Linked DNA regions of Homo sapiens. The protein of the gene in region 2 purifies or fractionates together with the protein of the main gene of each other region. This does not show direct contact. Each region holds a gene or a part of one and is shown on either strand. Other genes may lie near its edges.

Region 1 (7,293 bases), on a different chromosome or scaffold from region 2:
ATCTGGAGTTCAAGTGGCAGTTTAATAACTTTGAAGTCACCACATTGAACACGCTTCCAAAGTTCGACGAAACTATACCTAAAATAACTGCGGGCTAAGGCTCAGTCCCAAGTTCCAGACTGTTTTTCATTTCTACTCAATGGTTCGTTGCTGTAAAATTCTACCCAAGAAAGTACTCTGTCCTTAAGCAAGAAATCACTTGAAGGCCATACCCCAAAGAAGAGCTTTCGCTGTTTAGATACGCACCCTTCAAGTCCTCCATCCATTAACATGCTATGGATTTATGGCCAGCGCTGTGCAGTGCCCCCAGCGCGCAGACACCACTGACTCTGCAACATGCAATCTGCTAACACATGGCCACTGGGACAGCCACATAACACCCAGGCCCTCTGACGGGCTATTCGGCATCTGTGGCACACGTGTGCCCCAGTCCTGCACCGACCACCACGGAACATACGACCAGACTGATGCCACCTCCGCCCTGCCAAGAAGCACATACTCAATTCTGGACCAGGGGGTTGGAACCCCAAAGCATCATAAACTTAAGCAAGCGTTTCTCCAGAGAGATCCTATGAGGCTCCCGGACATCGTTCTGTGTCCACAGGATCTTGGGACCAAAAAAATGAGAGAAGCAAGAAGAGCAGGTTCTCAGTTCAAGTTGGGGAGGTGGAGGCCACCGACCAGTAGAGAGATGGAAAAATAAGCAGACATGTATACTGCTGTTTATTTACAGGGAGAAAATAAGAGGCACAATCTCATGATGAAGAGAACGGAGGCTCCGAGTTCTTGCCCGCCGCCCTGGCCCAGCAGTCAGTCCTAGCTCTTGGAATTTCCTCACCTGCCTGGCCCTGTCTTTATTCACCTATAAACTGAAGAATAGCAACTTGGAGGTAGAGGGGTCACACAGACAGCAGCATCTAATTGGGTCAATCCTGAAATCCCACTAAAATCATAAATCTAAAAACCACCACATACCTGAAACAGAGAGAAGACAACTGCAATGAAATCTCAGAAGCTGGAAAGTAGGTAGTGGTTTAAAAAAAAAAAGGGGGGGGGTGGGGAGTAGAGGAAGACAACGCTAAACCGGAGGTGCAGAAAACAGAGAACTTTTTTTTTTTTTGGAGGCACAGTCTCGCTCTGTCGCCCAGGCTGGAGTGCAATGGCGCGATCTCGGCTCCCTGCAACTTCCGTCTCCTGGGTTCAAGCAATTCTGCCTCAGCCTGCCAAGTAGCTGGGATTACAGGCGTGTATCATCACGCCTGGCTAATTTTTGTGTTTTTGGTAGAGAAGGGGTTTCACCATGTTGGTCAGGCTGGTCTCGAAATCCTGACCTCAAATGATCCACCCGCTTCGGCCTCCCAAAGTGCTGAGATTACAGGCATGAGCCATCGCGCCGGGCCAGCAGAGAACTAACTTAACTCACAGTGCTGGACCCCCGGCTCTCAGGAACTGACGGCACCAGTCCCTCTGCCGGGGGAATGAGTGAACCAGGCAGAGCCTCAAAGTCAGCCACAGAAGTGGGTAGACAGCCAGACAGCTTGCCCCACATCTCACAGCCAGGCTCCCAAAGTCAAGGAAATGATGAAAATATATTATCTGCAAAGGAAGGAAAAATTGAGGATATATGGACCAGGCTGCAGCAGACACAGCCGGAAGCAGAGGCAGCATACTTAAAAATGGGGAATGAAGGCCGGGGATGGTGGCTCACACCTGTAATCCCACCACTTTGGGAGGCCGAGGCATGTGGATCACCTGAGGTCAGGAGTTCGAGACCTGCCTGCTCCACATGGTGAAACCTCATCTCTACTAAAAAATACAAAAATTAGCCAGGCATGGTGGTGGGCGCCTGTAATCCCAGCTACTCGGGAGGCTGAGGCAGGAGAATCACTGGAACCTGGGGGGGCAGATGTTGCAGTGAATGAAGATCACGCCATTGCACTCCAGCCTGGGTGACAGAGCGAGACTCCATCTCGAAAAACAAAAAAGATAAAAGAATATTTGAGGGCCGATGCAGAAGGTTCACCATCCAAGTAATAAAGTTTCAGAAAGAAAGAACACAGAAAATGGAAGGGGGGAGGGGAATCAAAGAAAAAAGTCAATGAAAAGATCTGAGTCGCTTCACAGAAAAGGCCTAACCAAGTATCTGTCACGAGAAACGAAAACAGCCCCACTCCAAGCCACATCATTGTGAAACTTCAGAACTCAAGGAAAAAGTTCAGATCCCATTAGGTCCAGGAAGAACAGCACAGCCTGCACACACAGAAGCCGGTGCTGGCAGGGCCTCCATCTTCAACAGCAACACTGGAAGCTAAAACACAGTGGAGAAACACCTTTAAAATTCTGGAGGAAATGAATGTCCACCCTGCAATTTTACACCATGCTAAAATATCAACTGAGGGAGAAGAAAAAAAATTTTTGAAAAGCCTGTCTCCCACGCTGCCTATTCACAGAAAATGGCGCACTATATGCCCAACCAACATCATGGCATAAACCAAGAAAGAAAATGACAGCAGAGACAAAAAAAAAAAAACAAAAAAAAACAAAACAGATATTCAACACAAGAGAGCAGCAGAAGGAACCCAGAGGATGAGAGCAAAGGAAGACCAGAGGATGGGGGTGGCACAAGAAGCATAGAAGATACGCAGGTGACGAAAGGCACAGGTGCCACCCGAACTTCCTAAGACAAGGTTGCAACAACTACAGAGTGCTGGGATGAATGAGAAGCATTACCAAAAGAAAAGAAATCTGATCAGTAACTATGGTTGAGTAATAATGGCTGGGCTGCAGATCCGTCTGCAGTCCATTAATGTACACACCGCATTCTGACCTCACTGACATTACAACATCTCTCTGCTGGGGGAGAGCGGGGAGCCCATGTGAGGAAAAGAGGCAAGCGGAAGAGAAGTAAATCCTCATCCGCAGGGTCCAAAGTCTATAGACAATGCCTGAAACCAGGAAAAAAAAAAAAACACAGGCAGAAATTTTTTTTTTTTTTTTTGAGATGGAGTTTCACTCTGTCACCTAGGCTGGAGTGCAGTGGCACCATCTCAGCTCACTGCAACCTCCGCCTCCCAGGTTCAAAGAATTCTCCTGCCTCAGCCTCCCAAGTAGCTGGGAATACATGCGCCCACCACCACGCCCAGCTGTTTTTTTTGTATTTTTAGTAGAGACAGAGTTTCACCATGTTGGCCAGGCTGGTCTTGAACTCCTGACTTCAAGTGATCCACCTGCCTCAGCCTCCCAACGTGCTGGGATTACAGGCGTGAGCCACCGCCCCCGGTCAATTTTTTAATGTTCCTCATAAACTAAGGAGTAACAAAAACAAAAATCAACCAGGAGAGATCAAAGGGGCTGCCCTCGGGGAATAAGAAATGGCGGGAGGTGGAAGCAGCTGCTATCTTTCCCAACCAACCTTACAAAACTACCCATTAGACATTTCTAAATAGAAACTAAACAAAATCCTAAGTAATTACAAATAAAACAAAGGATGTGGACCTGTAACAGTTCTTTCAAACCTTACGGCCTAAAATTCTCTTAAAAAACAGGAAGAGACTTAAAATAATAGGAAGATAAACCCCAGCTACGTACTTGGTAAGCATTAATTTAAAACTTGAAATGTTCCCACAATGTATTCAGATACCAACAGAGCGCAGAACAGAAAAGGTTTCTTTTGCTGACGAAGAACCCTCAAGAAACACAATGGAAGGTCTCTAGAGTCAACAATGTTGTTCCCTGGGTGCGCATAAAGTGACTGGTAACCACCAATTTGGGATGTTTCACAGTTTGTACCAAGCAAAGGCATATCTCAGTTTATTTCCCCTAATTTAAACCTTGCAAACCAGGGAGCCATTTAGGATTAAGAAACTCCATAGTCACCCTCAGGAGGCAGGTTATTTTTCCCAAAGCATTTGGCACTTATATTTTTTATAATTTCCACTGCAAAAACATGAATTATGGGAAATGACTGCTACAAACTACTCCGACGACAGTGGCTGATTCTACGCGATGAGACATGGATAATAGAGTGCAACTTCTATTTCCTGCACTCACACCACCCACAAGATTCCATTAATGATAATCAGCTGAGCTAAGGCATTAAAAGGCACAGAAAGGTGGCTTGGGTGTGGTCCACTTCCTGCAGGTAAGGAGCTTCCACAAGGGCAGCTCTGAATCATCGGGAGTAATCGCCCAAATAAAGAGCTAAGGGGCCCGTTTCTCAGGAGACCATCGGACGCCTGGACTGCGGCTTTAGAGTGTGTGTAACCGCACAAGCACAGCAGAAAGTAGCAGTGACCATCGACAGGCTCCTCCCTTCAGTAACTGCTCACCCTGCATCTTGCACCAGGGTCCTGGAAAAATACTGAACTGAAAATGAAACTCAACCTGCACCACATTAGGCAGCTCAGCTCTACGCATCAGACCGTAGCTCCAAGAAGAGCATCAAAGTCAGAAAGAGGGTGGGAAAGCAATGATGCCAGCCGCCACCTGCCCATAACTGCTCAGCACAGTTAGCAAGCTAGAAAATCTCATCTGACCAATTCCTACTTGAAGGTCACTTGCTTTTATGTGACATGCTATCAAGAATACTCCCAGATCTGAGACTGGACTCCTCCAAAAGTTTGGGTTTTTCTAATTTAAAAAAACCTTGTGACCATCCTCCCCCTCAAAAAAGAACACTTTCAAGCAAAACAAATTCTTACCATTGTTACATTTTGGAACACGGAGTATTCAAAATAGGTTTTTTGTTTTTTTGACACTTACATAGGCAACTAACTAACAAAACAGTAACTAACAGTAACTGAGTACTTATTACTCTTTAGCACTGATCAGCAAAAAGGATCATAAAGCAAGAGGAGTAATGAGATACTATAAAATGTTCACTGAGAGTTCAAGCCACGAAGCTGAGTGAATGCTAAAAAAATCCACTTAGGCTGTCCTACTGACACCTGGGCTCCCCACTCGCATCCCTGGGCTTCCTCTTCCCTGAAGTGCTGCAATGCCTTCTAAAGGGGCACCCAGCACTCCCCACACCTGAGAAAGCAGGAGCCCCAAAGAACAGGAGATCATCTGCTCAAAAATGTGCCATACTTCCGGCTGTCTACAGATGCAAGGCCTCCCCCAGGCCCACAGGCACCCCACTGCCTCTTCAGCTCCAGGACCGATCTAGATCTAGCCCACCAGAAGCTGTGTCACCGCTTTCCAACCATGTGCCTTTGCTCACTGTGTCCTCAGTCACTGCAACCTTCTTAGAGCACATGCCCCAAAGCAGGCAGCCGACCTCTTGAGGACAGGATGGACTGAGGCTCTGAACTCTGCCTCCAACGACTCCGGGCACTATACTCTGCAGGCTCCCCTGTGCAGTCCAATGCTGTCAGTCACCAGAGCACACTCCACAGTTCAGCAAGTCCCCAAGGTGCTCTCCGAACCCACGTCTCGGATGTCCTGACTGTCCACACCCAGTGACACACCAACCTTCCCCCAGGGTGCAGATGGTAACAGGGTAACTGGGCAGGCACCTCCCAAGGAAGGAACGGAAAAGAACCCGTGGAAATGTGACACTAACAAGAAAAAAAAGTACAAGAGCACTTAAGCCACAATTAAATGCAGCTGTCCTGTGTTTGCCTTCATTTCCCAGACTCCCAGAGTGCACAGGCTTCCCTAGGGTGGAGCAGAGCACTTGAGAAAAGCTCCCCATGTTCCCAGACTGGCCATTAGACACCAGTCTCACTATCCTGATGCAAGGGGCATTCTCAGCAAAGGTCTATTTATCCAAGCAGCAAGAAAAACAGAAGGGGAACGAGGGGGACAGGATGATGTTAACAAGACAAACTTCAGGTTTTTAAGCTATTCCTCTAAATTATCTGTATTTTCAAATATGAAACTATGTTAAACTTACAACTTCAAAACATGGTAAATTAACCAGGCCCTGCAATATGCAATACATGTGACGTATATAATTCAGTATTTTTCAAACTGTGGGTCAGGAATCAGTGGGCTGTGAAATCAATCTAGTGTTGCAACCAGCTCCTTTTTTAAATATACCACAACAGCACATCACAAGCACAGGCTGAGCATCCCTGATCCAAAATGCTCCAAAATATGAAACTTTTCAGCGCCAACATGACACTCAAAGGAAATGCTCATTGGGAGCACTTCTGATTTCGGATGTTCAACAAGCATATAATGCAAATATTCCAAAATTCGAAACACTTGTGGTCCCAAGCATTTTGGATGAGGGATACTCAACCCGTAGTAAGGATTAGTACGGTCTCCTGAAACTTGTTTTTGATCCTGATGTAAAATATATTTCTTACATGGGTCACGGTTCAGAAAAGTTGAAAAGTGACTGATAAAATTTTGTAACAGAAATGTGCAAACCAAAATCTCATTTTTAAATCACATTTCTGCAAACTCAAAGCCGATTGGTGTTCCTGCCTCCATCTGAAGCTTTTCTTTTAATCTCAATTGAGTGAAACAACAAATGCTCAATGAAAGACGGAGTACTTATAGCCACAGATCAGCCTGATTTCTTTATGTTTATTCGTCACTATATTCATTCAGTTTCTGATGTCTATTTTTTTCCCCTACTGAAATATAAAACTGGGGTTTAAGAGAAAAAAAGCAAAGGCTTCAGCAACTTTCATTAAACATTTACTTTAAATGGTAACCTCATTCAGATCTACCACTTTCAACCCCTCCCCTAGGACCTGGCACATGAAAGTTCAATAAGGGTTGCTGATTGAATAAATTAAAAAATCAGCCTCCTATTTCTAATTTCTTTAGCCAATCTAACTAGCAATGAGATAAACTTTAATGTTTGCAAAAGTAACCATAAAACAGTAACACTGCATGATGAGTGGGAGTAGGAGGAGTAGTAGTTTCCAATCACAAATTTGCCACATAATATATGATCTCACCTTGGTCAGTTAAGTCTTCCTTGGTCTCCACATCTACAAAATGGTATAATATCATCTACATCTCAAACGGTACCGGTAAGAATCAAGAGGCATAAAAATGATTTGCAAAACATTGAAAAATGGTGTTTATACTAACATGGTTGTTATTTTTCAAGCATCCTTGCCTAGGCCACCTGAATTCACTCTGCTTTATTTTTTTATTTTATTTTTTTTTTTGAGACGGAGTCTGCCTCTGTCGCCCAGGCTGGGGTGCAACGGCACAATCTCAGCTCAACGCAACCTCCGCCTCCCGGGTTCAAGTGATTCTCCTGCCTCAGCCTCCCGAGTAGCTGGGATTACAGGCGTGTGCCACCACGCCCAGCTAATTTTTTGGATT
Region 2 (4,379 bases):
CTTTTCAACCTAAAGATTTTTTACTTTCATTTCCTTTGGGGGATCCTGGATACTGGAGTAAAGATGAAAGGGGCCAGAATTACTTTTAAAGAACTCTTGAAAGTATTGGCCATCTGTCGACCTTTTCAAAGCAGTTATTCATAAAAGAGAATCTTTAAAACTACAGAGCTGTCAGTTATGGTGAACTCTGCAGCTGTTCTAAGATGTAAAATTATATACATATATAAATGCGAAAGTGTGTGTCTGGGTAAGAGAAAGAGACTTGTCTGCCCTGATACCTTACCCTACCCCTTCTTTGTCTGAATTTCTTCTTTTCGTCCGGTTTGGAGTTATCAATGGGAAGTTGGAGCAGCGGTAGCTGTCCAGTCCTCCTTCCCCCGGACCAAAGGTGGAAGCCCCTTTGGTGTCACACTGAATGTACACACGATCTTCCAATCTTTTGAAACCAGCTGTATCCCAGGCTTTTGGGTTTTGAGACCTCCTGTGGCAGAGACTGTAAACTGACCGCCTCGAAACTCATTGTCCATTTCCCCTTCTTAGTAACTGCATTCTGAGTTTATTTGGCAAAGCCACGCACACCACTAGCAAGACGATTTCCTAGTCTCTCTTGCAGCTAGATGTGGCCAAGTGACCAGATTTTGACCAAAGAGAGTAATGTGGAAGGGATGAATTATACTTCTGTGGGGTCCTTAATAGAGAGTGAGTGGGGTTTTTATTCCTTTATTCTTTTTCCAACATGGAATGCAAATGTAATGACTGAAGCCACAGCAGCCATTATGGACTACAAAGTGATCTTGAGAAGGAAACCAAAATGATTGAAGCAGCATGGGTCATTCATATGCGGGTCATTGATACGTGGGTCATTGATATGTGGGTCATTGATACACGGGCCAGTGATACATTCTCTACCACCCTGGATCACTAACTCCAGACTTCTTTTACATAAGAGGTAAATAAGCCTCTATTTGTATAAAACACTCGTCCCATACAACTGAACATAATCTCAACTGATACACTTAGGAAATCATTGAAGGAATAAGCATTCTGAAATATTAAGTATTTGGTGTACTAAATACAAAAGGAGACATACCTCTAATGCAATTAACAATGCCAAGACTTTATCTTTTTAAGGGCTCTGAGTGACCCTGTATATAGAGGTCACTTGCGATGGCTTGTCATTACAGTACCAAACAAACCCATAGGCTCATTAAGCATTTGTAAGGGTGCCGTCCTTAAAGGTGCTGGAAGGCTCAGAAATCATGTTTTATACTAAATAATTGCCAAAGTCAAATAATGACATTATACATACTTCCCAGTTTTAGAGTTTTCAGTTGTGGGGATGTAAAAATGTTTGTTAAAGGAATTGTTTTCAACTAGTAAAACATCATTTTTGAGTGCCTAGTGTGCCAAGCACTGTGCTAAACACTTACATCATCTCATTTAACCTTTACAAGCACATACAATTATTCTTCTCACTTTACAGATGGGTAAAGGGATACATAACTTGTCCAAGGTCACATGGCAAAGCTGGAAATCAAATGAAGTTCAGTCAGATTTCAATTCTGTGTTACAAAACACCAAACTAAAGCATCTTCCATGTTTATTTTTTTCTAGATAGTTTTGAGCATCCTTAATGCCTTTAAATTCTCCATTGAGTTACGTTAGAATGGTTGTCCTTGTTTCAGTGAATTAGAAGGCTGAAATCCAGAGAGGGCTTGTTCATCTTTGAGGTAAGATCAGGACATTTAGTTATGGCATCAAGTTTGACAGAGAGAAAGCCAAAGCTATGGCTCTGCAAACCAGCTCGGTCCCTTCCTTGAGTATAATTTTGTAGTCTAGCTCTTTTTTTTTTTTTTTTTTTCATAGAGATGGGGTCTCGCTAAATTGCCCAGGTTGGTCTCGAATTCCTGGCCCTGGCAATCCTCTCACCTCAGCCTTCCAAAGTGCTCAGATTACAGACATGAGCCACTGTGCCTAGCTTAGCTCTTTTTTTTTTTTTTTTTTTTGAGATGGAGTCTTGCACTGTCACCCAGGCTGGAGTGCAGTGGCACGATCTCAGCTCACTGCAACCTCCACCTCCCAGGTTCAAGTGATTCTCCTTGCCTCAGCCTCCCAAGTAGCTGGGATTACAGGCGCCCGCCACCGTGCCCGGATAATTTTTTGTATTTTTAGTAGAGACAGGGTTTCACTATGTTGGCCAGGCTGATCTTGAACTCCTGACCTTGTGATCCACCCGCCTCGGCCTCCCAAAGTGCTGGGATTACAGGCATGAGCCACCACGCCCGGCCATCTAGATTAGTTCTTTACATTGAAAGTAACATCCAGGGTCACTGATATTCTGAGAAAATTAGAACCACCTTTGAGTTAAGACTTCTAGAAAGACACATACGTTGTTATATTTTAATTGGAATCAGACATTTAATGGCATAAAAACATTGCATATATGGCTTTGCTGTTCCGAATGTCATGAACTTAAAATCCAAATATGACATAAGCAGTTTTAAGACTTATTTTGGCCAGCCTCCCCAATCCCAAAGGAGATTTAAAAGTAATAATGTAAAAAAGTTAAGGTCAAGGTGTTTTAAAATCAACATCTCAGCTAATGACTAACCCTTTGTTTCCTGGGGACTTCTGCTCTACTGTGAAAACTGCTGAGCTTAACCCGCTGTTGAACAACTGGTTAGTTATTAGTTCCCTGGGTGATTGTCCCTGAAGTTAAGCCATGCTCTGGGGACACATGAGGCACTTTAATTGGGGTAGTTACTTTTTCCAGGTTGGGTACAATGTTTGGCTCTCAAAAGCAAGGTAAACAGTTTACAGTCAAAAGGAATGCTCTGTGATTGTGTGCCTTTGGGATCAAGGGTTGAGATCTTAGAGTATTCTCATAAACATCTGTACCAGGTGCTCAAAGATGTTTGAGGGTTGTCAAGCAAGCTGTTCAACTTCTGCATTTTCTGTGGATATGGGCACAATGACCCACTCAGATTTTTCTCCTAGTGTCCTGAATGACAGCTCATCTACACAGAGTGAAACTCCAGATATGTGACAAGCAGCATGGGACAGATGCTGACAATCAGAACAGATGCTGGATGTAAACAACTGGTAAGGCTGCACTGGTGCATGCTGGCAGAATCACCTGCTATGCATCCAGGGAGCAAATGCATCTGCATGCTCAGCATGACACCAGCTTACCTCCCTGTGCAAATCCCCTCCCCTAATCAGTCTCATCCAAATCTTCTCCTGCAGTAGCAGCTTCTAAAGCTGCAAGGGCCTCCGCCACCGCTGCATCCTCGTCCACAATCTCCCCATCCCCATCTCCATCGGAGCCATGGGTATCCTCCTGCCTGTTTCCTGAGTCAACCACAGGCATGGCATGAACAGGACCCTTCTCATTAAAGCAGATGCTTAGAACTTCTGTTTCCACATCCTCATTCAATGAATCCCAGCTTCTCCTCACAGAGAAGGGCGTATTCAAACCATGCTCCCCCACTGGGGGCTGAATTCCCTCTAGGGATTCATCCTCAGTATGGTTCTTGAAAACACAGTCCTTTTCATTATGATCAACGTTGTCTCCAGCTGGGCCCCAATGCTGAAGGTAATCTGGGGCTGGTATCTGGAAGACATGGTCTTGTACTTCCAAGGCAAAACTTTCTGCCTCAGAAGGAGCTCTGGAGTCTCCATTTCTCATGACTTGGGTCCCTTCTGAGGCCAGCAGCACACAGTCCTGTTTCCTGGTGCCCCCTCCTTCCAGGAAGGGTTGAGTTGGGGGAACAGTATTTGCAGTACTGGCCCAGGAGCCCCTGTCATCCTGGGTGGGGCTGGAATTCCCAGTGGGCTGTGGAGTGGCAGCAGGGCCGATGCCGTTGACACCGCAGGCATGGTGTTCCCCTCCAGCGTCCCCCTGTGGGAGCGGCCCTTGGTGAGGCCAGCAGGGCTCCCATGGATCAGCTGTCCTGCTGCTGCTCTCAGTCTTCTTTGAGCCCTGCCTCTGAGGGTCATTTTTCTGCACCAAGACTTCACTGCTCCATTTGCCTTTTAATTTATCAGTGTCGTCTTCATCTAGCTTGCAGCTGTTGACTTCATTGACATAGCCAGGAGAGGGCACTTGAACTGGATCAAAGAGATAGCTTCAGGAAAGACAATGAAAACCAGTCAGGTCTGCTCCATCATTAATGCTTTTTACCACAGGCCCTGCTTCTTTCTACGATTCCTGCTAATTTAATTTCTGTGATTACTTTTCAACCTAGATAAGTATGTCTAAATCAAATAGATATAGTTGGTATAAAAATGTTTGGTGGCTCACGCCTGTAATCTCAGCAATTTGGGTGGCCAAGGCGGGTGGATCACTTGAGGTCAGGAGTTCGAGACCAGCCTGACCG

The links.
Region 1: the proteins of PGCKA1 (region 2) and STK24 purify together in Homo sapiens (affinity purification with mass spectrometry; 3 studies listed by BioGRID and IntAct, with this or other methods). This does not show direct contact.

The regions. Positions count from the first base shown.
Region 1 is NC_000013.11:98,566,897-98,574,189, forward strand, and holds part of STK24 (serine/threonine-protein kinase 24 isoform b precursor), read right to left. Parts: intron 1-7,293. UniProt on the Homo sapiens protein: Serine/threonine-protein kinase that acts on both serine and threonine residues and promotes apoptosis in response to stress stimuli and caspase activation.
Region 2 is NC_000004.12:37,589,836-37,594,214, reverse strand, and holds the end of PGCKA1 (PDCD10 and GCKIII kinases-associated protein 1), read right to left. Parts: intron 4,128-4,379; coding exon 3,215-4,127; 3' UTR 705-3,214; downstream 1-704. UniProt on the Homo sapiens protein: Acts as a tumor suppressor. Acts as a tumor suppressor for colorectal cancer cell proliferation by targeting KEAP1/USP17/ELK1/CDK6 axis.